Regions from separate parts of the Homo sapiens genome. Here region 2 is linked to region 1. Evidence: fine-mapped expression QTL. A gene starts in region 1. The other region holds a variant in brackets. All regions are shown on one strand. Distances are between the middles of the regions.

Region 1 (14,935 bases):
ACATGATGGTGAGTTGTACAATTATTTCATTATATATTACAATGTAATAGTAATAGAAATAAAGTACATAATAAATGTAAGGTGTTTAAGTCAACCTGAAACCACCTCCCACCCCCCACCCCTCAGCCCCCTTTCTGTGATAAAATTGTCTCCTACAAAACCGGTCCCTGGTGCCAAAAAGGTTGGGGGCTGCGGGCCATGCCACGGCTGGTGGTCCTAGGTGCACGGGGGCCGAGGGGGCACGAGGCAGTAGTGTGGGGACTCCAGGTCCCAGAGGCCGCTCATGGGGTGGGAAGTGTGAGGCCGCTGCCTGCCTGGGCCTCGGAGGGTGGGGGGAGCAGGGCAGGGAGATGATAAATTGACCATTATCTCAGGATGTCTCTTTCTGACTGCCAATATCTTCGCCATCGCCAGCATCACCAACCCAGACTGGCTCAACACCAGGGAGTCTGTGGGAGCACTCACTGTGGGCCTCATGGGACAGTGTCAAACAATGCGTGGACGAGAGGGGATGTGCATCCCTCCCCAGCTTCCCCTGGAGTGGGTCACCATGCTGTTTTTTATCATCATGGGAATCATTTCATTGACTGTAAAATTCCCCTTAGACAGACGGAGGCAGCTAGGACTCTGGAGTCAGGTGTGAATCTGCCCTCCCATTGATTGTCACATGTGGTTTGCTGGTGGCTTCCCACTGGGGAAGAGAAGCTACAAAATATGTTCGATGGATAGCATTCACTGGGATGATGCTTTTCTGTATGGCTGCCGTCATATTTCCAATAGGATTTTACATCAATGAAGTCAGAGGTCAACCTTATAAATTACCCAACACCACAGTAGTTGGGTCATCATATGTACCTTTTGTCTTATCAATTTCTTTACAATAGTAGGACTTCTATTTGCTGCCAAGTTTATTTGCCAAGCTGATAAATGTCTAAATTGCTTGACTCTCACTTATTTTTGAAGGGTGAGGAGGACAAAGGCGAGACATCTGAGCAGCCCTCATGGGAAGATGCTCACATGAAACTGATGCTGAGAAGGAAAAATAAAAAAAGTTTTGATTTGCTCTCACTATGCACTTTGGACTTAAAGAAGAAAAAAAAAAAAAAGGAAGAGCCTTTTTGTTTTATTTTTGAGACAGAGTCTCACTCTGTCACCTAAGCTAGAATGCAGTGGCGTGATCTCAGCTCACTGCAACCTCCGCCTCCCGGGTTCTCCTGCCTCAGCCTCCCGAGTAGCTGGGACTACAGGCACCCACCACCACACCCAGCTAATTTTTTTTTTTTCTCTTGAGATGGAGTCTCGTTCTGTCACCCAGGCTGGAGTGCAGTGGCGTGATCTCGGCTCACTGCAACCTCCGCTTCCCAGGTTCAAGTGATTCTCTTGCCTCAGACTCCTGAGTAGCTGGGATTACAGGCGCCTGCCACTGCGCCCAGCTAATTTTTGTATTTTTAGTAGAGACGGAGTTTCACCATGTTAGCCAGGATGGTCTCGATCTCCTGACCTCGTGATCCACCCACCTCAGCCTCCCAAAGTGCTGGGATTACAGGCGTAAGCCACCGCGCCCAGCCAGGAGAGCCTTTTCCATAACCAAATACAGACAATACTGACTAAATCTCCTGAGCATATTCAGGCAGTCAGGTCTGCACTGTGATAGCAACCTAGAGAAGGAGAATGCTTTCTACTGAAAAGCATGTGGCCCTTTGTGACTCTGTTGTTCCATTTTTAATATCTAATGATTCAATAGAGGGAAAAAAAAAGTCTAAGTAGTTATGTATCATGGTGGACCAGAGGGATGCAAGAGAAGTTCATGTGGGGCTGGCCTCACCTCCTGAGAAATCAGTGTTCACAACTTCCTTGTAATAGTATGAGCCTTTGGCACCATTACTGCACCAAGAAGCCAATAGATCAAAACTTGTTTGCTAAAATGTATGTAAAAATTCTGAAATTCCCTATTCTGTGTGTATGAAAAAAAAAAATCAAACACTAAGACACATGTTTTGGGTAGGTAGGTGGGTGGGTGGGGGAAATCTCTCTCTCTCTCTGTATGTGTGTATGTATATATATATATGTACATACACACACAATATATATATATACACACACTATATATATATACACACTATATATATACACACACACTATATATATATACACACACACTATATATATACACACACACTATATATACACACACACTATATATATACACACACTATATATATATACACACACACTATATATATACACACACACTATATATATACACACACACTATATATATACACACACACTATATATATATACACACACACTATATATATACACTATATATATAAAATATATATTTTGCTGACAGAAAAAAAAAAACGAAAAGGTTGGGGAGTGCTGCACTATGCAGCAAACCCTGTGAATTACCTGCCTGACCTCATGTAATTCTCCAGACAATTCTGTGAATTACCTGCCTGTCCTCATGTAATTCTCCAAACAATTCTGTCATCCCTATTTTACAGATGAGGAAACTGAGGCTCAGCAATGAAACTGAGTAAAAGGCTTGCTGTCTGATGTGTCAGAAGACAATCTTGTGATTAGGAAAATTAATAGTCATTACTTTTTTTTTTTTTAACTCTTTGGGACACAGTTTCAGAAGGAACTGACTGTCAGGACACAGAGCCACTCAACGGGAGGGCAGATTCACACCTGACCCCAGAGTCCTAGCTGCCTCTACCTGTCCAAGGGGAATTTTACAGTGATCAGTCCAAAATGCGCGGTTTGCAACATCTTCACCCCCTCAGGAAAGCCTTCCAGCGCCAGTGCATCCTCCCTGTGTGCGCACACCCTCCACCAGCCCTCCAAGGTATTTCCTGCATTGCATTGTGAGGATACACATGGCTGGGAGCACCTGCTCCCGGGATTCAGTCTTACTTGTGCCAGCATCCCTAGCACCCAGCACAATGCCTGACACATGTTGGGCACAGAAACAATGAATGGATAAACAAGCCTGGCCTCCCTGGGCCCAAGCCCTGTAAACCTACCCAAAGCCAGAGCAGCCTGCCTTGGGGACTCAGTGGACCTCCCCTCAGGCTGGGATCACACCCCCAAGAGAGTAATCCAGACAGACTGAGGACAGAGCAGGTTCTCTCAGCCAGCTTTTTCTCCAGCACTGAAACAGTCACAATCTGTTCTTTAGCTGTGCACCAGATGCAGGAACTGGCTTATGTTTGGGAACCATGTTGCACAAAAATCCCACCTTAAACATTAGAACTTTAAAAGGAATGAGTGTGTGCTCGCTGCTCTGTGTCCCTTTTTGCCCTAGGGAGATCATACATGATGGCAGGAGCTACAGCAGCCAGCTTGGACCATGAGATGGAAGCCTAAGTTTGAGCAAGAAAAGCCACATTATCAAAGGAATCCTGCTCCCAGATGATCTCACAGAACACAGCAAGCTGTGCTACCAGCTCTGGACTGTGTACTTCCAGAATGTTAAGGAGCAAGGAATAAACTTCTGTTTCCACCACTGTAGATTTCACCTAACTAAAGGCGTGAGCATTGCCCAGTGATCATCCACTCTGGCCTCTCTCTGCAGGTAAAACAATAATAGTAAGATCAACAATTTCCCAACCAAACTGTAACTGGGATTTTGTCATTACTATATAATTTTGAAGAAAAGGCTATCAGGAAAGAATCATTTGAATCATGTTGAACCTAGAGAAAAAGGACAAACTGATCTGATTTGTTTCATCCTTGAGTATTACAGACATACCTCAGATTTCCAGACAGCCCAGGCTACTCTTTTCTGACAGTTTGCCTGTGTAAACTCCAGCTTGGCTCCCCTCGTCCGGCTCATTACCTGAATCAATGACACACAAGTGGAAAATCTGATGAGAACCTAAAGGGTACCTGCTCCCTCAGAGCTGCCTTTTCATGCATCCATCAAACATAGACAAATACAGAGTGCTTAGCACAGAGCCTGGCCCAAGGAAGTGCTGAATAAATGGCCTGCTCTGTGCCAGATAGCATGCTGACACTGGGACACAAAGATGCACAGACTCAGCCTCAGGCCCTGCTCTCAAGAACTCCAGCTCAATAAGAGACAGGACACAATGTTAAGAAGGAAAAACGACAAGGTTTGTATCCAAGCATTACTGCAGCATTGGCACTGCTCTGGGATATCCTGGACACTTTGTTTCTCATTGCATACCCTACCCTAGGTGAGCTCATCCCCTCCCATGACTTCAGTGACCTTTGATGGTGATAACTACTAGCTGAACAGGTGCACTTGAATGTTTTACAGGCATCCAACTCCAACATGTTCAAAACTAAACATATCTGCCCTCCCCCAGATCTGCTCCCCGTACTGCTCCCTATCACATGGAGCAGCATCCAACACCCATCAGTCAAAAACTGGGGTGATCCTGACTCCTCCCTGCCCCTAACTCTCATCAAACTAATCACCAAATTGTGTCAATTCTATCGCTAAAACCATCTCTCCTCACTCTCTGCCTTTAACTCACACCTTTATTTCTCACTTGGATTATTCTAGCAGGCTCTTAATTGGCCTACAGGCCCACTCCCTTTGATACATTCTTCACTTAGCCAGAGTGATCTTCCTAATCCACAAATCTGATTCGTGGCCAGGCATGGTTGCACATGCCTATAATCCCAGTACTTTGGGAGGCTGAGGCGGGAGGATCATTTGAGGCCAAGAGTTCGAGACCAGTCTGGGCAACATAGTGAGACCCCATCTCTACTAAAAATTTAAAAAATTAGCCAGGTGTTATGGTGCACGCCTGTAGTCCCAGCTAGTTGGGAGGCTGAGGCAGAAGGATCACTTGAGTTCAGATCAAGGCTGCAGTGAACTATGATTATGCTGCCACTGCACTCCAGCCTGGGTGACAGAGCAAGACGTAGTCTCAAAAAAAAAAAACAAAAACAAAAACAAAAAAAACCTGATTCTTTTATTTCAGGCTGGAAATAAAAGAATCCTCCCACCTCAGCCTTCCAAGAAGCTGGGACCACCAGAGGTGTACTCCACCATGCCCGGCTATTTTTTTTTTCCTTTTTTTTTTTTTTTCTTTTAATAAAGATGGGGTCTTGCCATGTTGCCCAGGCTTGTCTCAAACTCCTGGGCTCAAATGATCATCCCACGTTGGCCTCCCAAAGTGCTAGAATTACAGAGTAAGCCACCGCACCTGGCCACAGATCTGATTCTTAAATGGCTTCCCATTAACCTAAAGTTTAAAGTCCTTAACTAGGTTTACAACGTCCCCTAAGACCAGACCACAGCTTGCTGCTGCTTTTTTTTTTTTTCTTTTTTGAGACGGAATCTCGCTCTGTCGCCCAGGCTGGAGTGCAGTGGCGCCGTTTCGGCTCACTGCAACCTCCGCCTCCTGCGTTCGAGCGATTCTCATACCTCAGCCTCCTGAGCAGCTGGGACTACAGGCGCGCGCAAGCACGACCGGCTAATTTTTGTATTTTTAGTAGAGACGGGGGTTTCACCATATTGGCCAGGCTGGTCTCGAACTCCTGACCTCAAGTGATCTGCCCGCCTGGGCCTCCCAAAGTGCTGAGATTACAAGCGTGAGACAACGAGCCCGGCCCAGTCTGCTTCTTTATTTAGCCTGATCTCTCTCTCCTCTCTCTACGAAGATGAGTTTTCTCACAAACTACACCCTTAACTGGGAATACCCGTTTTCCTGCCTCACTCCGCTGAGCTTCCCTTAGATCTTAGCTTTCTGGGGGACAGAAGCCTCCCGGGATTCCCCCTAGGCTGAGTGATGTGTCTCTACTCCGTGCTTCAGAGGAAGGAGGGCTTTCTGCCCTCGCAGCAGTATCAGAATTGCTGATTTACCTGTATGTCTCCCACATGGGTCTCTGAGCTCTGGGTGACAATGGTGATACAATTAATAACAGCAACAAACACACAGCATTTACTTTGTACCCATAAGTGTTCTAGGAGCCTCATTTCCCCTTTATTACAATCTTAGGAGGCTGATTTTATTATCATCTCTGCTTAAAGGATGAATAAACCCAGGCAGAGAGAAAAAGCCAAAAGTGCCTAAGGTCACAGCAGGGAATGGGGATTCAAACCCCGCTGCTGGGCTCCACGGTTCACACTCCTAACTCCAGGATCGAGGATCCTGGAGGATCGAGTCCGCCCGCATCACTCGCTCTAGCTTCACCATCTATCAGGTGCTGAACCACCGTCCGCAGTACGAATGAATGAATGAAATGCTTTTATACAGGGACAGCGTCGGCCTCCTCTGTCAGCTCCTCCTAGGCCCGGGCAGCCCCGCTCCCTCCCGCCCCGGCCGGCCGACAGGAGCTGCCCCGGCACTGCGCTCCCTCGCGGCCGCAGAACGCCCACCCTCGACAGCGCGCGGGGTCAAGGGGCGGTGACAGCCGTGCGGCGGGGGCGGAGATGCTACCAGCTGGGGTGTCATCCAGCCCGGGAGGTGACACGCGCCCCCTCGCCCGGGCGGTCGCCTGGCCGCCCACTCCCCGCCAGCACGCCCGGCGACGCCCCCCGCCCCGCCACCCCACAATCTCCCGCCCAGCGGTGTCCCCTCAGCCCCGGTTGGCGTCCCATTCCACTTCCCTCCCCTCCCCCACACAACCGTCACCGGCGTCCCACCGCGCCCCATCCTCCGCCGCCTCCGCCCCGGCTCCCGGGACTTCCCCGGCCCCGGGCGATTGTTGACACTCACCTGCCATGTCCCGGACCCCACCGCAGAGGGAGGTGCATCACGGCCGCGAGAAGGCCGGGGACGGCACTCCAGAGCAGACAAAGGGCGCCGCCATGTTAGAGTCGGGCGGAACCGACCTCGCAGGCTTCCCGGCTGCAACTTCCGGCGCATGCGCAGCGTCCTCGCTAGGAGAGCGCCCATAGACAGACGCATGCGCCTAGCTATCCAAAAGTTCCACCTTACAGTACTTCGGCGCTCAGAGTTGTCCTCATTGTACCCCTGCCTTGGTTTCTCTTCCAAATATAACAGTAACATCATGTGTTCAGCTCTTACTGTGTGCCAGGCACTGTGTTAAGCGCTTTACATGCATTATCTCTTTAAATCCTCACACCAATTATAAGATAGTATTATTCTCCTAATTTTAAAAAAGGGAAAACAGACTCAAAAAGTGTAAATCAATGTCCATGGTCACATATCTTGTAAGTGGTGGACCGGAGATATGAATCTACTTGTGGCTTCAAAGCTGCAGATCCCAGTTGTGTTTTTCTACCTTCTAAACCGAACATTATCCCCTTCCCTGATTGTCTTGGACGTGAATAAAGGTGTCTGAAAACAAAAGTGTCTGCAGACTTGCATGGCCCCTCCGTGGCCCCTCTTCTACCTTTTTGGTAGCTCTAGGCCACTGACTTCTCCACTTTCTCACAGTCTGAGGGCTTTCTCCTTTGTTTACTTCTAGGCCTGCATATTTTCCATAATCTATAATTTTAACAACACTCTTGCCACTACTGTAAGCTCTTTTGCCCCCTTGCCTTTTTGTCACATGGATTTGGTAAGAATACCAACGCTGTGTGAATCCAAATGCACCTTTTCTCTTTGTTAGCTCCCAAACAGCCAAGCACAGCTGAAGAAAGTATGCAGTGGGGAGACTGTTCCCTAGAGATTCATGTCCACTAGCCTTCAGTGGGATGCAACATATGCCAATCTGGCAACTCACTCCTGTCTTCACAATGGCTAGAGAAACAAAAAAGCCCAGCAGTTGACTTCACCCCTTCTTGTCTTTAGGTTTTTTTTTTTTTTTTGGAGACAGAGTCTCACTCTGTCTTCCAGGCTGGAGTGCAGTGGCGCTGTCTCGGTTCACTGCAAGCTCCGCCTCCCGGGTTCACGCCATTCTCCTGTCTCAGCCTCCAGAGTAGCTGGGACTACAGGCGCCCGCCACAACACCTGGCTAATTTTTTGTATTTTTAGTAGAGACGGGGTTTCACCATGTTAGCCAGGATGGTCTCGATCTTCTGACCTCGTGATCCACCTGCCTCAGCCTCCCAAAGTGCTGGGATTACAGGCGTGAGCCGCCGTGCCCGGCCGTCTTTCTTTTCTTTCTTTTTTTTTTTTTTAGATGGGGTCTCGCTATGTTGCCCGGCTGGACTGAAACCCCTAGGCTTAAGCATCCCATTTCAACCTCCCCAGTAGCTGAGACTACAGGCATGTGCACCCACAACTGGCTAACTTCACCCGTTCTTTTTAACTATATTTTTAATTTTTATTTCAGTAGTTTTTGGGGAACACATGGTGTTTGGTTACATGGATAAGTTCTTTAGTGATGATTTCTGTGATTTTGGGGGACCCATGACCTGAACAGTGTACATTCTACCCAAGGTGTAGTCTTTTTTTTTTTTTTTTTTTTTTTTTGAGATGGAGTCTTGCTCTGTTGCCCAGGCTGGAGTGCAGTGGCGCCATCTGGGCTCACTGCAAGTTCCGCCTCCCAGGTTCACGCCATTCTCCTGACTCAGCCTCCCGAGTAGCTGGGACTACAGGCGCCCGCCACCATGCCCGGCTAATTTTTTGTATTTTTAGTAGAGACGGGGTTTCACCGTGTTAGCCAGGATGGTCTGGATGTCCTGACCTCGTGATCCGCCCGCCTCGGCCTCCCAAAGTGCTGGGATTGCAGGCGTGAGCCACTGCGCCCAGCCAACCCAAAGTGTAGTCTTTTATCCCTCACCCCTCCCACCTTTCCCCCTGAGTTCCCAAAGTCCATTGTGTCATTCTTATGCCTTTGCGTCCTCATAGCTTAGCTCCCACCTAAAAGTGAGAGCATATGATATTTGGTTTTCCATTCCTGAGTTACTTCATTTAGAATAATGGTCTCTAGCTCCATCCATGTTGCTGCAAATGCCATTATTTCATTCCTTTTTATGGCTGAGTAGTATTCCATGTTATATATATATACCACATTTTCTTTATCCACTCGTGCATTGATGGGCATTTGAGATGGTTCTATATGTTTGCAATTGTGAACTGTGCTGCTACAAACATGCGTGTGGAAGTGTATTTTTCATATAATGACTTATTTTCCTCTCTGTAGATACCCGCTAGTGGGATTGCTGGATCTAATGGCAGATTTACTTTTAGTTCTTTAAGGAACATCCATATTGTTTTCCATAGTGGTTGTGCTAGTTTACATTCCCACCAGCAGTGCAAAAGTGTTCCCTTTTCACCACAACCATGTCAACATCTATCATTTTTTCATTTTTGATTGTGGCCATTCATGCAGGAGTAGGTATGGCATTATGGTTTTGATTTGCATTTGCCTGATGATTAGTGATATTGAGCATTTTTTCACGTTTGTTGGCCATTTGTGTATCTTCTTTTAAGAACTGTCGGGCCGGGCGCGGTGGCTCACGCCTGTAATCCCAGCACTTTGGGAGGCCGAAGTGGGCAGATAGCCTGAGGTCAGGAGTTCGAGACCAGCCTGGTCAACATGGCGAAACCTCGTCTCTACTAAAAAATCAAAAAAATAAAAATAAAAAAAATAGCCAGCATCGTGGTGGGCACCTGTAGTACCAAGCTACTCAAGAGGCTGAGGCAGGGAGAATTGCTTGATCCTGAGGCTGCAGTGAGCTAAGATTGTGCCACTGCACTCCAGCCTGGGCGACAGTGTGAGACTCTGTCTCAAAAAAAAAAAAATAAGAATTGTCTGTTCATGTCCTTAGCATGTGACTTTTTAATAGGATTATTTGCTTTTTTCTTGCTGATTTGTTTGAGTTCCTTGTAGATTCTGGGTATTAGTTCTTTGTTGGATGCATAGTTTGTGAAAATTTTCTCCCACTCTGTGGGTTGTCTGTTTACTCTGCTGATTATTTATTTTGCTGTGCAGAAACTTTTTAGTTTAATTAGGTCCCATTTATTTATATTCATTTTTGTTGCATTTGCTTTTGGGTTCTTAGTCATAAAGTCTTCGCCTAAGCCAATGTCCAGAAGAGTTTTTCCAATGTTGTCTTCTAGAATTTTTGTGGTTTCAGGTCTTAGATTTCAGTCTTTGATCTATCTTGAGTTGATATTTGTATAAGGTGAGAGATGAGGATACAGTTTCATTCTTCTACGTGTGGCTTGCCAATTATCCCAGTACCATTTACTGAATAGGGTGCCCCTCCCCCCTTTATATTTTTGTTTGCTTTGTTGAAGATCCATTGGATATAAGTATTTGGCTTTATTTCTGGGTTCTCTATTCTGTTCGTTTGGTCTATGTACCTATTTTATTCCAGTACCGTGCTGTTTTGGGGACTATAGCCTTGTAGTATAGTTTGAAGTTGGGTAATGTGATGCTCCCAGATTTGTTCTTTTTGCTTAGTTTTGCTTTGGATATGCAGGCCCCTTTTTGGTTCCATACTTCCCCATTTCTTAAAAAAATTTTTTTTAAATCATAGTAAGAAAACTTAATATGAGAGCTGTCCTCTTAAGAATTTGTTCTTTCTCTTCAACTTTTATTTTAAGTTCAAAGGTACATGTGCAGGAGGTGCAGGTTTGTTACATAGGTGGTAATATATGACCCATGTTTACTTTAGGTTGAACTAATGTTTGGACTTAACATTTAAATGTATTACAGGCCAGGTGTGGTGGCTCATGCCTGTAATCCCAGCACTTTGGGAGGCCAAGGCAGGAGGATCGCTTGAGACTGGGAATTGGAGACAAGCCTGGGCAACATAATGAGACTCCCCCTCATCTCTACTAAAAATAAAAGCTTAGCTGGGTATAGTAATGCATACCTGTAATCCCAGCTACTTGGGAGGCTGAGGCAGGAGGATCACTTCAGCCCAGGAGTTCGGGGCTGCAGTGAGCTATGATTGTGCCACTGCATTCCAGCCTGGGTGACAAACCAAGACCCTGTCTCTAAAAAAAATTTTAAATAAATGTATTACAATTAGGCCCTATATGTCAAAAGGTCTTTTCAGGGCACAAAAGCATTCAAGTGCACAGCCTCTGTAAACTGTCCAGGACCAGTCCCTGGTTGGTGGTCTTCTTAGCTGGAGAAAGTTATCGAAATCACCTTCTTTGTCCAAAGCTGTAGTTACGGCTGGTGGAACAGGAGTTCCAGTTGGCCTCTGTGAGCTGAATGAGTCGTAATTGTCTTAATACTGTTTATCTCGAGGCAAGTAGTCGTTTAGCTGCTAGAGAAAAAGAAAAACCTTGTGGCAATTGAACATAGTTTATTTTTTAAGGTAGGAGTGCACGGCTGAACCCTTGCGTGGCACAGCCTTAGGTCCTGTCTATAATTTGGGATGTTATTGCCACAGTCTGTTCTGTCAGTCTTATTGTCTCTATTTTAACTTTAATGCTCATCAGTTGTTATGTCTAAAATACAAATAGGGCCGGGCATGGTGGCTCACACATGTAATCCCAGCACTTTGGGAGGCTGAGGCGGATGGATCGCTTGAGGTCAGGAGTTCGAGATCAGCCTGGCCAACATGGTGAAACTCTGTCTCTACTAAAAATACAAAAATTAGCTGGGCGTGGTGGTGTGTGTCTGTAATCCCAGCTACTCGGGAGGCTGAGGCAGGAGAATCTCTTGAACCCGGGAGGTGGAGGTTGCAGTGAGCCAAGATTGCGGCACTGCACTTCAGCCTGGGCGACAGAGCAAGATGCTGTCTCAAAATAAATAAATAAATAAATAAATAAATAAATAAATAAATAAATAGATAGATAGATAGATAAAAGTAATAAGTATATCAAGGTGTGTTGTTTTAGTCTGTTCTCACGCTGCTAATAAAGGCATACCCAAGACTGGGTAATGTGTAAAGGAAAGAGGTTTAGTTGACTCACAATTCAGCATGACTGGGGAGGCCTCAGGCAACTTCCAATCATGGTGGAAGGGGAAGCAAACACATCCTTCTTCACATGGCAGCAGCAAGAAGGAGAATGAGCAAAAGGAGGAAAAGCCCCTTATAAAACCATCAGAAAGGCTGGGAGTTGTGGTTCATGCCTGTAATCCCAGAAATTTGGGAGGCCAAAGCAGGTGGATCACTTGAGGTCAGGAGTTCCAGGCCAACATACTGAAACTCCATCTCTAGTAAAAATAGTGAGTCTCCGTCTAAAACAAAAACAAAAACAAAACAAAACATCAGATATCCTGAGAACTTACTCTCACTCACTATCCTGAGAACAGCAGCATGGGGGTAATCACCCCCATGATTCAATCACCTCCCACCGGGTCCCTCCCACAACACGTGGGGTTTATGGAAACTACAATTCAAGATGAGATTTGGGTGGGGACACAACCAAATCATATCACGTGTCTAACCTCCCACCCTGTTGTAGCTGGGAACTCAGTCTCTAAGGTTTTTCTGGGGTCCCCTTAGCCAAAAGGAGGTCCGTTCAGTCGGTGGGGGACTTGGGATTTTATTTTTAGTTTACAGTGGAATCATGCTGGATTTGTCCTTCTGTACTGGCTTATTTCACATAGCACAATGTCCTTAAGGTTTATCACTGTTGTCAAATTTTGCAGAATTTCTTTTTTAAAGGCTGAATAATATTCTATCTTATGTATATACCGTATTTGGTTTAACCATTTGTCTGTCAGTGGACCCTTGGTTGGGTTGTTTCCACATTTTGGCTATTGTGAATAAATGCTACAATGAACAGTGGAGCACGAATATCTCTCCAAGGTCCTGATTTCAATTCTTTAGATAAAGACCCAGAAGTGGGATTTCTGGATCCTATGGTGGTTCTATTTTTAATTTTTTGAGGAATCCCCATATACCGTTCTTCATAGTGGCTGCACCATTTTGCATTCCACCAACAGTACACAAAGGTTCCAATTTTTCCACATCCTTACCAACACTTGTATTTCACCTCTTCTTTTACAGGGAGAATAATAGCAGATCTGTTAGGAACCTTCTTGTCTTCCCAATATTAAGCATACAAATCTATCCCCGGGTCTATCTGTGTTAGATGTGATCAATCAGGACTCAGCATCCATTCTTTCCAGAATCTAAAACGCTAAAAATGTATTTCCGCCTGGCGTGGTGGCTCACGCCTGTAATCCCAGCACTTTGGGAGGCCGAGGCAGGTGGATCACCTGAGGTCGGGAGTTTGAGACCAGCCTGACCAACATGGAGAAACACTGTCTCTACTAAAAATTAAAAATTAGCTGAGTGTGGTGGCGCATGCCTGTAATCCTAGCTACTCAGGAGGCTGAGGCAGGAGAATCGCTTGAACCCGGGAGGCGGAGGTTGCAGTGAGCCAAGATTGTGCCATTGCACTACAGCCTGGGTAACAAGAGTGAAACTCCATCTCAAAAAAAAAAATGTATTTCCCAGACTCAGCTGCAATTAGAATCCCACATATGGATGGGTTCTGCCAGTTAGTGGGATTTGGAAGAAGGAAGTGAGGCTGTAGCCATAGTCCTGCTGCTTTTGGCTGATATCTGCTGGCAAACAAGGTCATGGCTGTTTATAATTGCACCATAGAGCTTCAAATAAGAAAAGATTTGGGGTTTAAATTCTTGGCTCAAGGCAGGGTCAGATAACCTGGGGTCATTCCTGACTACTGCAATAGATGTATCATCTCTTATAGCCATGGGGCTTATGTAGCCAAAAATTGAAGAGAGTTCATCCCATGGGTTGCTGATTTGTAATGTAATTGTTATGTATGCTGTATTCACAGCCTGACCAGGTGCATGGAACAGGAAAAAGTGGCTCTCAGGAACTGAAATAGGGATGTTTGGGTGGATGCAGATGATTTTGTGTTCCCTGACTACCCATATCCAAAGTCCAGTGAGATTCCTTTGCTGATAGAAGCAGCCCCTCCTTCCATCTGACCAGGCTGATTCTGCTTTCTCTGGGGAGTGTGTAATGACCTCACCCGGGGAAGTTATTTTGCAAGAGGAATCTAATTCTCGTGAACACTCCACTGCCCATTGTTTGTTTCCAGATCTATAATGAAAGCCAGATTCCAGGATGAGCCAGGAGACAGGCACAGAGTCTGACCAAGGAGGATATGGCTTCTACAACAAAATAAAACAATCAAACAAACAAACAAGCCTTAGCTAAGTAAGTGAGCTGAAGCCTAGGGAATATGGGTGCTACCTCAGAAAGGAAAGAATATAACATTTGGCTGAATTTATCAACATAATATGTTACAGAGATTTGGGGTTTTAAAGTTCCAGCTGGAAATGGTTCTAACAAGTCAACTGGTTGATTAAACTCTGGATCAACAGTGGCCTTTATAAAACGAAGTTGAGTGGAGATGCCAGAAACTGCTTAGAATATTACAGAAGAGGAATCCAAGAATTTGCACTTGATGGCTGAGACAGGACAGGAGTTAAGTATACATGTGTTGATTGAGTGAGTGAATGATTACAACTTGCCTGGTTTCTCATTAGGTGCCACTGATTCAATTATATGACTAACCAGGTCCCTCAACCCCAAGCTTCTCCCCTCCAATATTCTTGCCCCACCCCACCCTCAGTCAGTCGCCAAAGTGACACACAGCACCCCTCACCATCTCCAGAGTCTCCAGCCTAAACCTCATCCACTTTCTACTCTAACGCCCCCTCAAAGCTCAGTTACTATTCACATGTGGGCAACCCTGCATTTTCCCTATAAGGATAACTTTTTAAGCAGTTGGCCACCCTGTAGACATAAACTTGAAGAAGTGTAGATAAACCTTGTAGACTTAAACTTGAAGAGCTGTTGATAGACGAATGGCTGTTTATACAATTTAATTTACCAACTTGATTGCACAAATCTTAAAAATCACAAATTATATAACACGGCAGCGTACTAATTCATAAATATTGCTTTTCTTCCTCTGTTTACTTGTCATGAAATGATTTTCTTAACTCTTCCCAGAAATCCTTGGCATATACTTTTTAGTTCCCATCCATTTTGAAAATGTTATAAATTACACAAAAGTGAAAGTAATAAGACATTTTCTCTATTTCCATCATCCAGATTCAATAGTTAAGTTTTGCTACACAT
Region 2 (14,935 bases), 33 kb before region 1:
AGAGTACCGGTACGGCGACATCCGCACCTACCACCCCCCGGCCCAGCTCACACACACTCAGTTTCCCGCCGCTTCCTCTGTTGGCCTGCCTTCCCGGACCAAGACAGCTGCTCAGGTGAGCCAGCCAGGTATCTCCCCACTGTCTGTTGGGCATGTGCTTGTGGGGCTCAGCAGGCTTTTAAGCCAAGATGTGTGAAAGAAATCAGGGGCCAGGTGTGGTGGCTTATGCCTGTAATCCCAGCACTGTGGGAGGCCCAGATGGGAGGACTGCTTAAGCCCGGGAGTTCGAGACCAGCCTGGGCAACATGGCAAAACCCCATCTCGTACAAAAAAAAAAAATTACAAAAATTAGCCAGGTGTGGTGGCACACACCTGTGGTTTCAGCTACCTGGGAGGCTGAGGTGGGAAAATTGCTTGAGCCCTGGAGGCAGAGGTTGCATTGAACCAAGGTCGTGCCACTAGGCTCCAGTGACAGAGCGAGACCCAGTCTCAAAAAAAAAAAAAGCCGGGCATAGTGGCTCACGCCTGTAATCCCAACACTTTGGGAGGCCAGGGCTGGCAGATCACTTGAGGTCAGGAGTTCAAGACCAGCTTGGCCAACATGGTGAAACTCTGTCCCTACTTAAAGAAAAAGAAATCCGCCTTTTGGTAAAGATAGTGGTTGAGTACAAGTGAACTGGTCAGCTAGTCCCTAAAGATGTTGATCTTTTCATGAGTTTAAAGAGCTTTCTTAGTTCTGAGATGAAAGTATTAGATCACATCATGGGGAGTTCTGCATATGGGGAGGGAGCTCTTGCTGGGTAGCATCAGCAGGAGGCAGGTAATAGGGGATCTCTCCTTACCTGGAACCCCGAAAGCAGCTCCGTTGATTCAGGCTCCTTCTGTGGGCCTGACTTAACGGGAGATGCCACATCTTATCCTTTCCCTGTGGCCCTTTGGGTCATTTGTTGGTCTCAGGGGCTTGTGCACAACAGACTGACTCTGTCCCTTTGCCTTCCTTCCCTACACCAGGGCCCTCCTCCTGAAGGTGAGCCCCTGCAGCCTCCTCAGCCTGTGCAGTCCACACAGCCTGCCCAGCCTGCACCACCCTGCCCGCCCTCCCAGCTCGGTCAGCCCGGCCAGCCACCAAGCAGCAAGATGCCTCAAGTGTCCCAGGAGGCAAAGGGGACCCAGACGGGAGTAGAGCAGCCTCGCCTCCCAGCTGGACCTGCAAACAGGCCACCTGAGCCTCACACCCAGGTTCAGAGGGCACAAGCAGAAACAGGCCCGACTTCCTTCCCCTCCCCTGTGTCTGTCTCCATGAAGCCTGACCTTCCAGTCTCTCTTCCCACTCAGACTGCCCCAAAACAGCCGTTGTTTGTCCCAACAACCTCTGGCCCCAGCACCCCACCAGGACTGGTTCTGCCACACACTGAATTCCAGCCAGCCCCCAAACAAGATTCCTCTCCACACCTGACTTCCCAGAGACCCGTGGATATGGTTCAACTTCTGAAGGTAAGCATGAGCAGGGGCTGCCCTTCCTGGCCCCCAAGTTTTATGCCATGTCAAATGTCCTAAGATTCCCTAGTTAACAGACCCACAAGCTACAGCCTCTGGCTGTGTCCAGCATGGCTCAGCGAGGGGCCATGAGCTCACTTCCTGTTTGTTTCCCTGTGAGCAGAAGTACCCCATCGTGTGGCAGGGCCTGCTGGCCCTCAAGAATGACACAGCTGCTGTGCAGCTCCACTTCGTCTCTGGCAACAACGTCCTGGCCCATCGGTCCCTGCCCCTTTCTGAAGGAGGGCCCCCACTAAGGATCGCCCAGAGGATGCGGCTGGAGGCAACGCAGCTGGAAGGGGTTGCCCGAAGGATGACGGTAAGACTCTCAGGCCCAGGTGAGCAACTGCCCCACCTACAGGGAGGAAGACGTAGGTAGTCCCTGCCAGCCCATCTCCCTGGCCTGTCATGGAAGCATTAACTGTATTCTTGTTGTTGTTGAAACAGTCTCTGTCGCCTGGGCTGGAGTGCAGCGGTGCGATCTCTGTTCATTATAGCCTCTGCCTCCCGGGTTCAAGCCATTCTCTTGCCTCAGCCTCCTGAGTAGCTGGGATTATAGGCACGCACCACCATGGCACCACCATGCCCAGCTAATTTTTTGTATTTTTAGTAGAGATGGGGTTTCACCATGTTGGCCAGGCCAGCCTTGAACTCCTGACCTCAAGTGATCTGGCTGCCTTGGCCTCCCAAAGTGCTGGGATTACAGGCCTGAGCCACTGTGCCTGGCCAGTAACGGTATTCTTGAAGTGAGCAATGAAGGGTCCACTATGCTTCTACTTGGTGGGGGGATGTAAAGTACCTCTAGACCCAGAAACAAGGCTTTACAGTTTTTAAAAATTATTATTTTTTAAATCAGCTTTCTCAGGTTGAAAAAAAGCTTTTTTTTTTTTTTTTTTTCATTCAAATATCAGGGTAGCCTTTAAAGTCATCTCAGAGGTGGGGGTTTTTGTGGACCTGATACTGTGGGTTGGATGTGGGCTGCTGTTTGACTAGGAGGCCCCTGCTCACTGGCAGCTGGCCTCTGCCTCAGGTGGAGACAGATTACTGTCTGCTGCTGGCTCTGCCCTGTGGCCGTGACCAAGAGGATGTTGTGAGCCAGACCGAGTCCCTCAAGGCTGCCTTCATCACTTACCTGCAGGCCAAGCAGGCGGCAGGGATCATCAACGTTCCCAACCCTGGCTCCAATCAGGTCGGTTGTCCTGTGTCCTTCCTTCACATGTACACCCACAGGTGGGGCTGATCAGGGTAGGTGGGCCTACTCATCTGGTGCCCACTAGATCTGGCCCCAGAGGTGGGCAAAGGGGCATTTTGGACAGAAGTCAGTAGAGCACATGGGGCGGGGCGCCATCACCCATCCTGAAGAGAACCCAGGGAACCGCTGAGAACACAGGTTTTCCATGAGTTTAAAGATAGGGCCCCAGGGGGTTCCTGTTTATAGTTTTCTGACACCTGCTAGGTCTTCCAGTAGACATAGTCCTGGCACATTTGCTGGTTGGGGACTGATTTGGCCTGGCTCTTAGCATTGGGCCTCTTCAGGGCTCCCCAATGGAAGTGGAGTTGTGGGGGTGAAGACAGACGGTCCCACTTTGCTCTCTATCCTGTCTCCAGCCTGCCTACGTGCTGCAGATCTTCCCGCCCTGTGAGTTCTCTGAGAGTCACCTGTCCCGCCTGGCCCCTGACCTCCTTGCCAGCATCTCCAACATCTCTCCCCACCTCATGATTGTCATTGCCTCCGTGTGAGCCACTGAGTGGTTATCACCTCAGTGAATCTTCCCAGGGCTCTGCAGTAAAAACAAAGGACAACCCAGCCAAGCAGAGGAAGAAGCTGCCGAAGGGGACAGACTCCACTGCCAGACGGCCAGCCGTTTGCTGTCCTGCCGCCCGGCTCAGTCGGCCAGACTTCCTCTAGGAGTGGTGCTGCTACCTTGTATGTTTACATAATGCTTTAGCCCAAGGACACATCACCAACCCATGGACTCGCAGACACCGGGGCTGGGTTTCTCTTTCCTCTTTTTGGAGAAAAGGAACAGGGCAGTGGAATGAAAATTTTTTGTTTGTTTGTTTTTAAGAAACAAGAAAACAGAACTGCCTTTGCACTAAATTAGTGACTTGGACTTTTGCCCAGTGAAGACAGGCTGTGACACTCTGGATGTCTTGGTGTGTGTAGACACACATTGCAGACTCTTAACGCAGGAAGGACTTCAAACTTCTGCTGAGACCTTGGGGTCAAGGAACATTTCATTGGTTTTTTTTGTCCACCCCCATCTCCCTTGCTCATTTGGATGCGTCACCTTAATTCTCCTGCTGCCACCGTCTTTGATTCACCGGGATGTACAGTTTACAGTTGAAGAGCAAACAGAAAGGTTTTCTCTTGGTGGGATATGCAGAACTTGGGATGTGTGTATATATAAATATATAATATATATAAATATATATAATACTGACTTAAAAAATCAAATCCCCCGACATACGTTTTTTTTAATCTGTGCCAAAAATGTGTTTTCAGAGGAAATCTTATTTTCATATTCAGACTTTGTATTGCCCACTCATTTGTATAAGTGCGCTTCGGTACAGCACGGGTCCTGCTCCCGCGATGTGGAAGTGTCACACGGCACCTGTACAAAAAGACTGGCTAACCCCTCTTCCTATTACCTTGATCTCTTCCCCCAACTTCCTAACACTTATTAATTTATGAAACTGTTTTTCTCAGCGCAGTTTTGTTTTGTGTGTCCATTGGATTACAAACTTTATTAAAAAATATAAAACACACCAAGTGTGAGTGTGATTGTCACTTGGGTGGGAGGACGAACCATGGGTCCTTGGCTTATGGGAACAGTCAGCCCTCATCCCGCTTTTGATCCCCATGCCAAGTCTGTACATGGGAACTGTTTCCCTTCTGCCTCCTAGTCAGTCAGTCCTCCTCCCCAAGGATAATTTTATCTTGTACAAAGGAGATTTTTGTCACGGACACTGAACTTAACCATTTCTCACTCTTGTGGTGTCTTCAGAGTCCTAACTGGTTCTTAGGTAATGTGGAAGGAAGGCACTTCCAATTTTGATACAGAATATAACCACACCCCATGCCATCTCAGAAACATTTTAGCAAGCTTTGGTTTCTTGTCTCTCTCTTGCCCCCTCTTCCCTTCTCCCAGTGTGAAGCAGGCTGACTCCTGCAGAGGCAGTGGCCTCCTGGGGCCCCTGGGGGCTCATTTGATCCCGTCTCTGCCTCCAGACAGGAGAATGGGAGTTGGGGACAGGCTTCCCCTGCAGCTGGATTCTCTAGAAGCTGTGGAGTTGGGACAGGGACATGGGGACTATAAAGTTGGTGGTCTCACTTGGAATACCAATGGGCTCCTACAAATGGGCCTGTCCTGGTGTGAGAAGATAGCATCCCCCTCTGAACGGTGGGCCATAGATGCCGGGGCCACTGTGGGGGGACGAGATGGTACCTCCTGACTCCTTGCTGACAGGAGTGAGAAAGCTGTTCCACCAGCTCCCTACCTCCCCATCAAAGCCCCTGGCTGCTCCTTCCTGTCCCTCTGGGCCCCCAGCCTGGTGGCAGAGATGCCATCTTTTGAACCTTCCCAAAAGATGATGGCACCGGCTTGGCCTTAGTCCTCGGGCCAGGTAACCCTGAAGCAAGTGTGGCTTCCATCTGCTCCCTTAGGCCCATCAGAGCCAGGGCAGTGGCCTGGGCCTGGCACTCTCCTTGGCCTACCTTGCCACTCTGGCTGGAAGGACCCCTGAGCCAGGCCTGGCAGCAGTGGCCTGTGAGCCAGGCTCGCTCTGGGTTGCCTGTACCCTGGTAAGCAGTTGGTGGCCGCCCCTGCTGGTCCCTTCCCCAACTTCCCAACCTCTCCCCAACCTGGGCCGAGGGGGAGCAGGGTCATAGCTGTGGGGCGAGGGGAGGCCAGGCCCTAAAGATGAACAGGTGAGAAGCCTCCAAACAAGATGGGATGAGGGCATGGGGCACGTGGTGCCGAGGTCTCTCCAGCCTGAGTGTACTGCCCACTCCTCAACTTGGGGCAAAGCAGCCAGCCTGGCTCTGATTCTAGTCGCATTCAGCAAGAGGGACGGGCTGACCTTCCCAGGAAGGCTGGTTCCTGGGTGGTACAGCCTTTCTGTGGCATCAGTTGTAGCTGCCAGCTCCCCACCCACCCCACAGGGACCTATAGGCAGCATTAGAAAATAATCCAATTTATTCTCTCTAGGGAACAGGCCACCCTTCCCGGTTCCAGGGTGCCATCCATCC[TTAAA/T]TAAACAGTCAGAAGGGCCGCCAGCTCACTCGGCAGGCGGGGGACATTCAGGAGCTGTAGGGGAGGTCTCTGCCAGTGCGGGCTGGCCCTCAGCCCCGTCGCGAGGGCGGAAGACCAGCTCCCCAGCCTGCAGCACCTGCCCGGCAGGCCACGTGCCACCTGGCCCATACTGCTGATAGAAGTCCGCGTCTGTCTGGAACATGACCAGTGCCTGGGCTGTGTGGATTCGCACATGCTGAGCCAGGCTGTTGGCATCCAGAAACTTGTCCCCACAGGAGTCACAGGCGTAGAGGATGTGAGTGTTGGGGTCTGTGGAGGTGGGGCAGCAGTCAGAGTGGGAAGGACCCCGGGCTCTGCCCACATTCACACCCGGGTGGCCCCCCTCACCTTCTTCCTGCACTTGCTTCACAGCTTTGCTGATCTCGGCCTTCAGGACTTCCGTCTCATCGGCTGTCACTGCAGCTCCCACCGGCACCACTGCGGGCAGAGTCGCAGGGCCTAAGGTGAAGGCACGGGCACTGCCCCATCATCGCCACCCTGGCAGCAAGCTGCCTGTGACTTCCCTCTGCTGCCCACAGCCCGCACCTGTGAGCTGAGTGACGGCTGTCGCTGCCAGTGCCTCGGTAGCCAGCGTGACCATGTCATCCACAGTGACCACGCTGACCTCACTGCCCTCCTCGGGCTCCAGGATCTTGATGCCTGCCTTGCCCTGGTGCACGGTCTTCACGTGGGAGCGCAGGTTGTCTACCCGGTTGAAGCCACGCCCACACTTATCACACAGGTAAGGCTTCTCTCCTGGGGGAGCAAGGTTCTCTCTTGCCTTTGTGGGAAGGGGCCGCAGGGATGGGGTGGGAGGCCCTCAATGACTCGTTTGCCCAGCAACCCTGTCTTTTACAGCAGGAGGTGCTCTGGGGTGGCTGCACGGGTGCCTCTGGTGACACTGGCACCTCTGGAAGCTCTAGGAAAATGGGGTCCTCATTTGAACAGAACTGCCTTCAAGGCCACCTGCAGCAAGAGCTAGCACCCGAGGCTGGGGTCTGGGGGGTCCCTTCCTTCCCCCTGCTCCCCACCTGGCAGCAGGGCCTGGGAAGGAACAGGCATGGTAGGGGCCACAGCTCACCAGTGTGAATGATGATGTGCTTGGACAGGTCCCCCACGTTCACGAAGGCCTTGCTGCACACGCTGCACTTGTGTGGGCGGATGTTGTCGTGGTGGCGAATATGATTGGCCAACTGGCTGGACTGGACGAATCTGTGGGGCCACAGGAAGGGACTCGCATGGAACTGCCCCAACCTGGGCCTCCTGCCTCACCCTCTAGACTGAAAAGGACCCCTAGGACCAGAGCCTGGGGCGTGGGCAGCAGTCAGCTCAGTCCCCAGCCAAGCCCCCAGTTTGTCTTCTGAGCCCCCTCACTGTGGGGTGTCTGGCCAGTGGGTGTGGGGGAGGGGGCAGGACCTCTTGCCGCAGCGCTCGCAGACGTAGGGCTTCTCCCCGGTGTGCTGGCGCACGTGGGCGATGAGGGAGCTGGCCTGGGTGAAGGCCTTACCGCACATCACACACTGGCATGGCTTCTCACCTGGGGACCGGGCAGAAGGTGTTGGTGCCTGCTCCTCTCCGTGCCCTCCCAGTCCTGGGCATGGCCGCTCACCACCCACCTGTGTGAATGCGGACGTGCCGCTGCAGAGCGCCGGGGTCTGCAAACTGTCGCTGGCAGTGGATGCACACGTAGGGCTTCTCCCCGCTGTGGATCCGAAGGTGCCGCTTCAGGTTCCCTGTGGCGAGACCGAGGGCGAACCTGGCGTGGGGCACCACCGGTGGCCGAGGAGCAGGGGTGTGAGGGCAGCCAGGGCAGCCCTGGCCCTACCTGAGGTGGTGAACTGCTTCCCACACTCTCGGCACTTGAGGGGCCCGTCAGCGATGTGGATCTTCAGGTGGGCCTTCAGGTTCCCTACCTGTGCCCAGGGAGGGGTCAGGGGGGCCACCCCACAGAGCTCGGCCCCGGGCCCCCTCACCTGCCCCTCCCACAAAGGAACAATTGACTCTCAGGCTTGCCAGGGTCCGTGAAGGGCTCTATCTCTCCTGGGTCAGGAGAGGTCCCAGGTCCCAGCGGTGAGAGGTAAGCCGCCCCACCCCATTTTTTCAGGACCAAACCCCGCCCTGAGTCGGCCTGCCCTCCGCAGAGCAACCGGGAGCTCCCCCGCGGAAGTGGCTCTCGCTGCGCCTGTTTCCTGGGTGAACAAGCTGATGAGCTCCTGGAGGCCGGGGCTGTGCTCCCCGCCCGCCCCACCACGTGGCATGCATGCGGCTGCGGCCACCGGCGGCTGCCAGGCGCTGGTTCCGGGAGGGGTCCGCACACCTGGTTGAACTTCTTGTCGCAGTGTGGGCACTTGTGCTCCTTGTCCGTGTCGTGGGTCTCCAGGTGGCGCATCTTGGAAGTGGGGTCGGAGAAGGAGCGGCCGCAGTAGTCGCACTGGTAGGGCTTCTCGCCGCTGTGCACCAGCTGGTGGCGCTTGAGGTTGCCCGAGGTGGTGAAGAGCTTGCCGCAGTCCTCGCAGCGGTAGCGCGCCTCGCCCGAGTGCCGCTTCTTGTGCAGGTTCAGCAGGCTGATGAGGCGGTAGCTCTTCCCGCACTCCTCGCAGCCGTAGGGCTTCAGAGGGCTGCAGGGCCAGAAGGCGACAGGAGGCAGGGCTCGCTGGGGCGTGAAAGGCCGGGCCTGGCAGGGGCCGGGGTAGGAGGCCGGCTTGGGGCAGTACCTGTGCGTCTTCTCATGGGCCTTGCACGCGGCCGGGTCGGAAAAGGCCTTGCTGCACTCCCGGCACGAGAAGGGCTTCTCCCCCGTGTGGATGCGGATGTGCCGCTTGAAGTTCCCCGTGTGCGTGAACTCCTTCCCACAGTCCTGTGGGTGCAGCGGGGAAGCGGGGTGTGAGGAGCAGCCGGTGGGAGGCCGGAGGGGAGGGACGCTGGCTGGGAGGGCTGGCCATAGTCTCCCTCACCTCGCACTTGTGGATGACGGAGCCGTAGGCCTTGGACTCCGTGCGGTCGCCGTAGGTGCCTGAGCGCAGGCCCCGGGCCTCGGAGCCGAGCTCCTGCCCCGAGTCTGTGCCCGCTGACTCCTCATTCTCGTTCTCCTCGGGGGCCTCTCCGTTCTCCAGCTGGGAACCCTCCTCCTTGACCTCAGCTGGCCCTGCGCCCTCCTCCTCTTGCTCCTCTTGCTCCTTTTGCTCCTCTTCCCCTTTCCGGGCGGGCTCCACCTCCATTTCTGCGGAGAAAAGGGCAAGCATGGAGGCGGCAGCCCTCTCTGCCTGAGCGCACGTGAGGGGCGCCGGCAACATGTGGAAGGGACAGTAAATGGCCCCAGCACTGGCCAAGGAAAGCCCCCGGGGGGGCCTGTGAACTGGGTATTTGCTGCTTGCGGGATGCAGGTAGGGGGCTTAGCCAGCTGGGGTGGGCGCTGTCGGCCAGCAGGCACTGGAGGGTTGCCGTGGGTGGCAAGGCACCCCTGCACGGTGCTGAAAGCCGGGAAGCAGCAGAAGCTCCAGGGCTTTGAAGGACGTGCCTGTGCTCACAGACACACGGCTAGCATGGTCAACCAAGGAACGACCTCGAGACTCAAGAACATGCGAAGACCAAGGTGTCCCAAAGCTGAAGTGCATGGTGACTCCAGGTGGGACTAGCTGGAGGCAGGAGGAGAGGGAGGCCCCAGTGCGCAGTGGAGGCAGGGCCCTGGGAGGATGCACCAGGTAGGGCCTGGTCCTGGCTGGGCGGGGCTACCTTGCTCCGAGCTCTCGGACAAAGCGGCCTCAGCTTCTGCAGCAGCCATGCCACTCGTGGGGTCTGGCTTGAGCTCCACAGGCGGCGGCTCCCGGGGCGCATCGGCTTTCTCTGTCTGCTCTGCACCTGGGTGGGGGAAGCACCGGAGGCTGGATTGCTACCCTCTGCCCAGGGGTCGGATACCTCTCCTGGACCAGCGCGCTGGTGGTGGCTGCGTGTGACCCAGGAGGGGAGGCCCCAGCACACCCCTAGCCAAGGCTGTTGTGTCTGCTCTGGTTGAAACAGACCCCCTGGAACACACAATAGGTCATTCTGGGTAACACAGGCTCAAGAGGTGCAGGTGCCCGTGCTACCTGCCCCAAGGCAGCCCTCACTACCCTGTGCCCAGGCTGCTGGGAGGTGACAGGACAGCCGGCTGGGTCCTTGGCATCTGACTCACCGCTGGCCGCACTCTGGGCCTGACCGCCGCGCTCCTCCTTGAGGTCCCTGCTGGGGCCTATGGGTGTGCTGCGTCCTGCCTGCTCCAGCCTGCTCAGCGTGCTGGTGGCCACCTTCTCCTCTTTGGCTCTCTTGTCCCCTCCTGGAGATGGAACAGGGCAGACCTGCCGTTTCCCATCAAGTGCCCGCCATCTGGAGGTGTGAGGTGGCCCAGAACTTGCTAGGTCTTCCTCGTCCTCCCTAGGGTACCTCTAAGTAGTGGTTTGCTGATTTGTTCATTCACCAAATTATTCACAGGGCACCCACTCCATGCCAGGCTGATGGCTGGGCACTGGGAATACAACAGTGATGGTTCCTGCTTGTGTGGGACATGCAGACCCCATGTGTGCACTAAGGGAGCTGATCAGAGGTCAGCACTAGGAAAGGGAGGAACGCAGCCTCTGGAAGTCTACAGCAAGGCACCTGGCCCATAGTGGGCATCTGAGGGCTTTTATCTTAGCAGCTAAGGGAAGTGGAAGGAGGGGCTCAGGAGAACAGACCCGCAGGAGGGTTTAGGAGCCTGCCCGTGTGCAAAGGCACTGAACCAGGCACGGCTCCCGGGTGCTCTGTAGGGGAAAGGCAGGCAGAGAGGCCACCCTCAGACCTGAGGCTAACCCTTGCCAGCACCCACAACCGAGGCAGGGCCAGATGAGGAAACTGAGACCCAGAAAGTCAGAGGCAGAGCCCACATCAAAAGCCAAGGTCTCTGGCCATCTGCTTGGGAGCAGCTGCCAATAACCTACCTTCTGTGGCCAAGGCCTCCGCATTTCCCCCAGGGCTGGTAGCCGGCTCAGCAAGTGACTTGAGGGCATGGCAGGCCGTGATGATGTCCTGCATTTGGAGGAAAGTGGCCACGGCCAGCACATCATCCACGTTCTCAGGGCTCAGGCTCAGCTTGGCCGTGTACATAAACTCCAGCACCTGCCCCAGGCCTACCAAGGACAGGACAGCTGTCACAGACCCACCTCAAGATCCGGCACCGGCAGCCTGCCCCACCACTCCACTCAGCAGCAGGACGCAGGGATTTAGGAACAGCTGAGTGGCAAGCCTGCATCGCCCCATCTCCTCTGTGGAGAGGAGGCAGGTAACCTGGGGGATCTCAGCACTACCAACAGCCCTTGAAAAGAAGTGCTCGCTGAGGGTCTGAATGCCTGCCCTGCACAGAGAACAAAAGGTGTGAACGCCCACCCTGCACAGAGGACAGGAGGTGTGAATGCCCACACTGCACAGGGAACAGAAGGTGCAACTGTCCGCCCTGCATGGAGGAGGATGGGCTGTGAATGCCGCCCATGCATGGAGAAAAGGAGGTGTGAATATGCACCCTGCACAGAGGACGGGGGTATAAATGCCCATCCTGCAGGGAGGACAGAGTGTGAATGCCTGCCCTGGATGAGGACAGAGGTGTGAATGCCCACCCTGCATTGAGGACGGATGTTGTGAACACCTGCCCTCCACACCCTCTTATTTGGCCGCTACACTTCACCAGTGGAGGACACTCCAACCTGACTTTCATCAGGGCTCTGCTACCAACTCTCTATCTGACTGACCTCCAGGCCAGTCACTGACCTCTTTGGGTCTCAGTTTCCACATCTATAAAATGGGAGAATAATACCTTCTCATGGCATGTCACGTCAGTCTGGGTTGGGAGTCTGAATCCAGGACCAGTTCCTTCCACAACCCCAAGGTCTTCCTGACACTGCTCCCAGCCCCTAGGCCTTCCCCATCACCTCTCCCCACGCTTCTAGTTAGCACTGGGGTAGATGCTTCAGGACTGACTCTGCCACGGAAAGGGGCCAGAGGGCATAGAGCCTGCCTACTCTCTGCCCCTCCCAATGAGGCCTTTCCTGTGTTCACTGCGGCCTAGAGCTCATCATGAGCCCTTCCTGCCCGTTCTCCCCTTACCACTCCACTACCAATCAAAACAGGCCCCCAAAAGGTGGGAGGAACTTAGTACTGAATTGCTCATGGCCTGAAGCCTGTGCGGGAGGCCTGTTGCATCCCACAGCCTGCAGGTGCTGCCCCTGGAGGGCCTAGCATGGCACAGGGCCGGCCATAGCTTCTGGCTATCAGCAAGCTCAGCCCCAGCCCTGACGGGGTACCTGCCGCGTTACTGATGTCCAGGTGCACCACGTCCTTCTGGTCCACGAAGAGCATCTTGAAGTACTCGCTGCAGGCCGCCAGCACTGCTTTATGAGCCTTAAAGTGAACACCGTCCACCACAAAGGTGCAGTCACAGAGAAGCCCCAGCTGCCGCTGCTGGTTCAGCTGTTCCAAGACATGCTGGCTGTGCTGGGGAAAGTCCATGGCTGAAGAAAGCCAAAGGGCGTTGGGGTTAGCACGGAGAAAGGACGTCAGACACGCTCAACAGTCACTCCTAAAGTCCCAGGCGAGCACCATGGAGAAGACAGAATTAAAACAAGTGAGGGCATTTCTGCCACAAAAGGGCAGTTCAGTCCAGATACCCCCTGCAAGCCAAACTCAACCAACTGGTGGCTCCTGTATTCCTGGGTTTACTGTCCAGGAAAAGTGGCCCAAACCAAAAAGCACTGGGGCACCAACACGAGGCAGCCGCCTCCGTATTCAGCCTGATAATAACATGAAAAAGCCAAAAAAGGGAACAAATACAGAACACTGAAATGTGTCATCATTTCAAAAATGAAACGACATGGTCACTTTAACATTTGTTACAAAAAGAATGCATGACAATCTCAGAATAAAGGACAGATGTTTCAATTGGACATGTTGGTCTTTAAGAAAACTTTCCTATTTTCTCATTCTCTCATGGACAGGTGAAGACAAGACGGTGTTTCATCAGCCAGTGTTGCAGAACTCGGCCCCTCTCAGGCTCTGCACGTACCCCATCCCCCGACAAAGCCTAGCTCTCCCTCTCTTTCTGATTCATGGGAACTACCTAGAGTTGCGGAGTCTTCTGACTCCAGAAACCTGTGTCCTGGTGGCCATCCCAGGAGAAACAACTTTGATCCTGACCCCAAGAGCTGCTGACCTGGCCACAACTTCTCTGTCAAGGGCCTCACTTAATGCCTGGAAATCCCACAAGTGAAAATGCTCAGGAAAATTCCATGGCCCAGTGCCGAGCAGTCTTGAACCGCACAAGCCGTGACTAAGTAACTATCTAAAACAGCTCTCCCTCCCGCCCCAACACCACCCAGAGTGGGCGTCAACATCAGCAATTGTCTAGGGAAAATAAGCGGGCCCTCTTTTCTAGAAAGAACCCATTTCAGAATGTTTGAAGAGAAAAATCAACACCCACTGTCTGGGGCCACATTAGACAGATTCAACTGGGCACGGCTGTCACGCCCTGGCCCAGGATCTGCTAAGGGGTAGTGAGTTCTCTGCCTACTCCTCCTCTTCTCTGAGGCCTGAGTCTGCACGGGGCTGGCTCCCCGGCTTCTGGGCAGGTGAGAGGGACACTTTGGGGCTCTCCGCCCCCAGTTTCGGCAGCTCTGCCCCGGCTCAGGCACTCCCCTGTGACATCAGCATCTTGGGGGGTGAATCACTGCCGCAGCTCTGAAGCTGCTGTGGCCATGCATGGCTGTCGGGCTGTGATGAGTCCGGAGGAAGCCACGCCCCTCACACCAGCACAGGTCGGCCTTGAAGGGCGCCAAGGCCTCCCACCACGTGATGTCTGGAAACTTTTCACAAGTGGGGGTATCTGCTGAGCGGGGGGAAGTGACGCAACAAATAACGGGGAGCATGGCAGTGGCAACAGGCATGAGCCACAGCGCACCAGCCTCCGAGCCACAAGTTCAGCGTTGCTGCTGCTGCCAGAGGCCCAGAAACAGCTGTTCCCTCCCCCTACACATCCCCGCGCAGGCTTTGGCTCTCTCAATGACATTCCTAAATGGCTGTGGCTAGAGCCCTAAGTGTAAGCACTGGAGAGCCAGGGCCAGCCCCGAAATCAGGAGGTAAGGCCCTGGGGCAGCTGGCCCCGCACCAAGTGCACCAAGTGGCTGGCAGCAGCACACGGCCACCTGGAGCAAAGCACAGAGGCCTTTCTCTCCTGTCCTCAGTCCCTGGAAGCAGCAGGTTCCTATCTGTGACCTGAAGGAACGCAAGGGAGAATCGTGGCTGCGCTGCTCCTATGCACTGGACATGGGGAGGCACCAATGTCCAGCTTGTGGATCAAGACCTGAAGGGCACAAAGGGCAAGGTGGGTGCAGAAGGAACCAAAGGCAGGGGCGAGGTGGGCCCAGGCCACGGCAACCCTAGAGCTGTCTTCTCCTGGCTGTGGAAAAGGTCACGTGAGCACACAGGTGTGTGGGTGGCAAGCCCTGGGCCTCAATTGCTAGTCACCCCCTACATACCCAGGAGCCCCAAGTGCAGAAGAGGGGAATACCAGGGCCCACACAGGGCAAAATCCTCAACTGGCTTCAGAAGCAGCCCATCTGGAACTTGCAAGTGAGGCCCAACCCTTCTCTCCAGGCTGTGTGCCTGGCTTCCTCACCTTCCCCAGGAGCCAACCCGAAACTTGAGCCACCCAGGTGCTAAAACAACCTGGGGAGCATCAGCTGAACCCCCAGAGGTACAAAGAACCCTCTAGCAGGAAAACCATCTGACTTGCCGGGAAGAGACATGTGAGGAGACTCCTAGCCAAGGGGAGGGACAGGATCAATCCCCTTGTGTGGGCCCAAGGCTGGGATGAGCCTCCCTGTGGCCATGTGCCCTGGGGCTTCCTGGCAAGCGCAGCCCCGCCCAGCCATACAGCTGTCCTGGGACTGGATGGATGGATGGATGGGTAAGCTAGATAGATTAGATAAGACACATTCGCTAGATAATAAAATAGTAAAGGCCCCAAGGACAGGGTGGGTGGTGGCCCAGCCCCCCACATACCACCACCCGCCAAGAGAGCAGCTGTGTGCCCATGAGCAACATTT

The links.
Region 2: its variant is fine-mapped to the expression of ZBTB17 in whole blood (TOPMed, PIP above 0.99).

What each region holds. Positions count from the first base shown.
Region 1 is chr1:15,969,279-15,984,213 of GRCh38, forward strand. It overlaps ZBTB17 (zinc finger and BTB domain containing 17), which reads right to left and starts at 6,823. Exons shown (of 16, transcript NM_003443.3): 1 at 6,705-6,823; 2 at 3,761-3,847. RefSeq lists enhancers at 5,687-5,796, 6,688-7,187 and silencers at 6,217-6,546, 6,587-6,686.
Region 2 is chr1:15,936,152-15,951,086 of GRCh38, forward strand. SPEN (spen family transcriptional repressor) reads left to right here. Exons shown (of 15, transcript NM_015001.3): 11 at 1-115; 12 at 1,012-1,494; 13 at 1,661-1,855; 14 at 2,567-2,725; 15 at 3,145-4,305. The coding sequence ends at 3,276. ZBTB17 (zinc finger and BTB domain containing 17) reads right to left here. Exons shown (of 16, transcript NM_003443.3): 3 at 12,140-12,346; 4 at 10,784-10,972; 5 at 10,003-10,143; 6 at 9,564-9,689; 7 at 8,786-9,051; 8 at 8,546-8,688; 9 at 8,149-8,449; 10 at 7,657-7,744; 11 at 7,448-7,564; 12 at 7,248-7,368; 13 at 6,913-7,043; 14 at 6,378-6,587; 15 at 6,180-6,269; 16 at 5,718-6,101. The coding sequence starts at 12,344. The coding sequence ends at 5,818. It overlaps LOC124903855 (a long non-coding RNA gene), which reads left to right and starts at 13,780. Exons shown (of 3, transcript XR_007065486.1): 1 at 13,780-14,211. RefSeq lists enhancers at 5,973-7,172, 12,374-12,483, 13,084-13,253, 13,745-14,532. The variant TTAAA/T (reference allele first, on the strand shown) is at 5,789.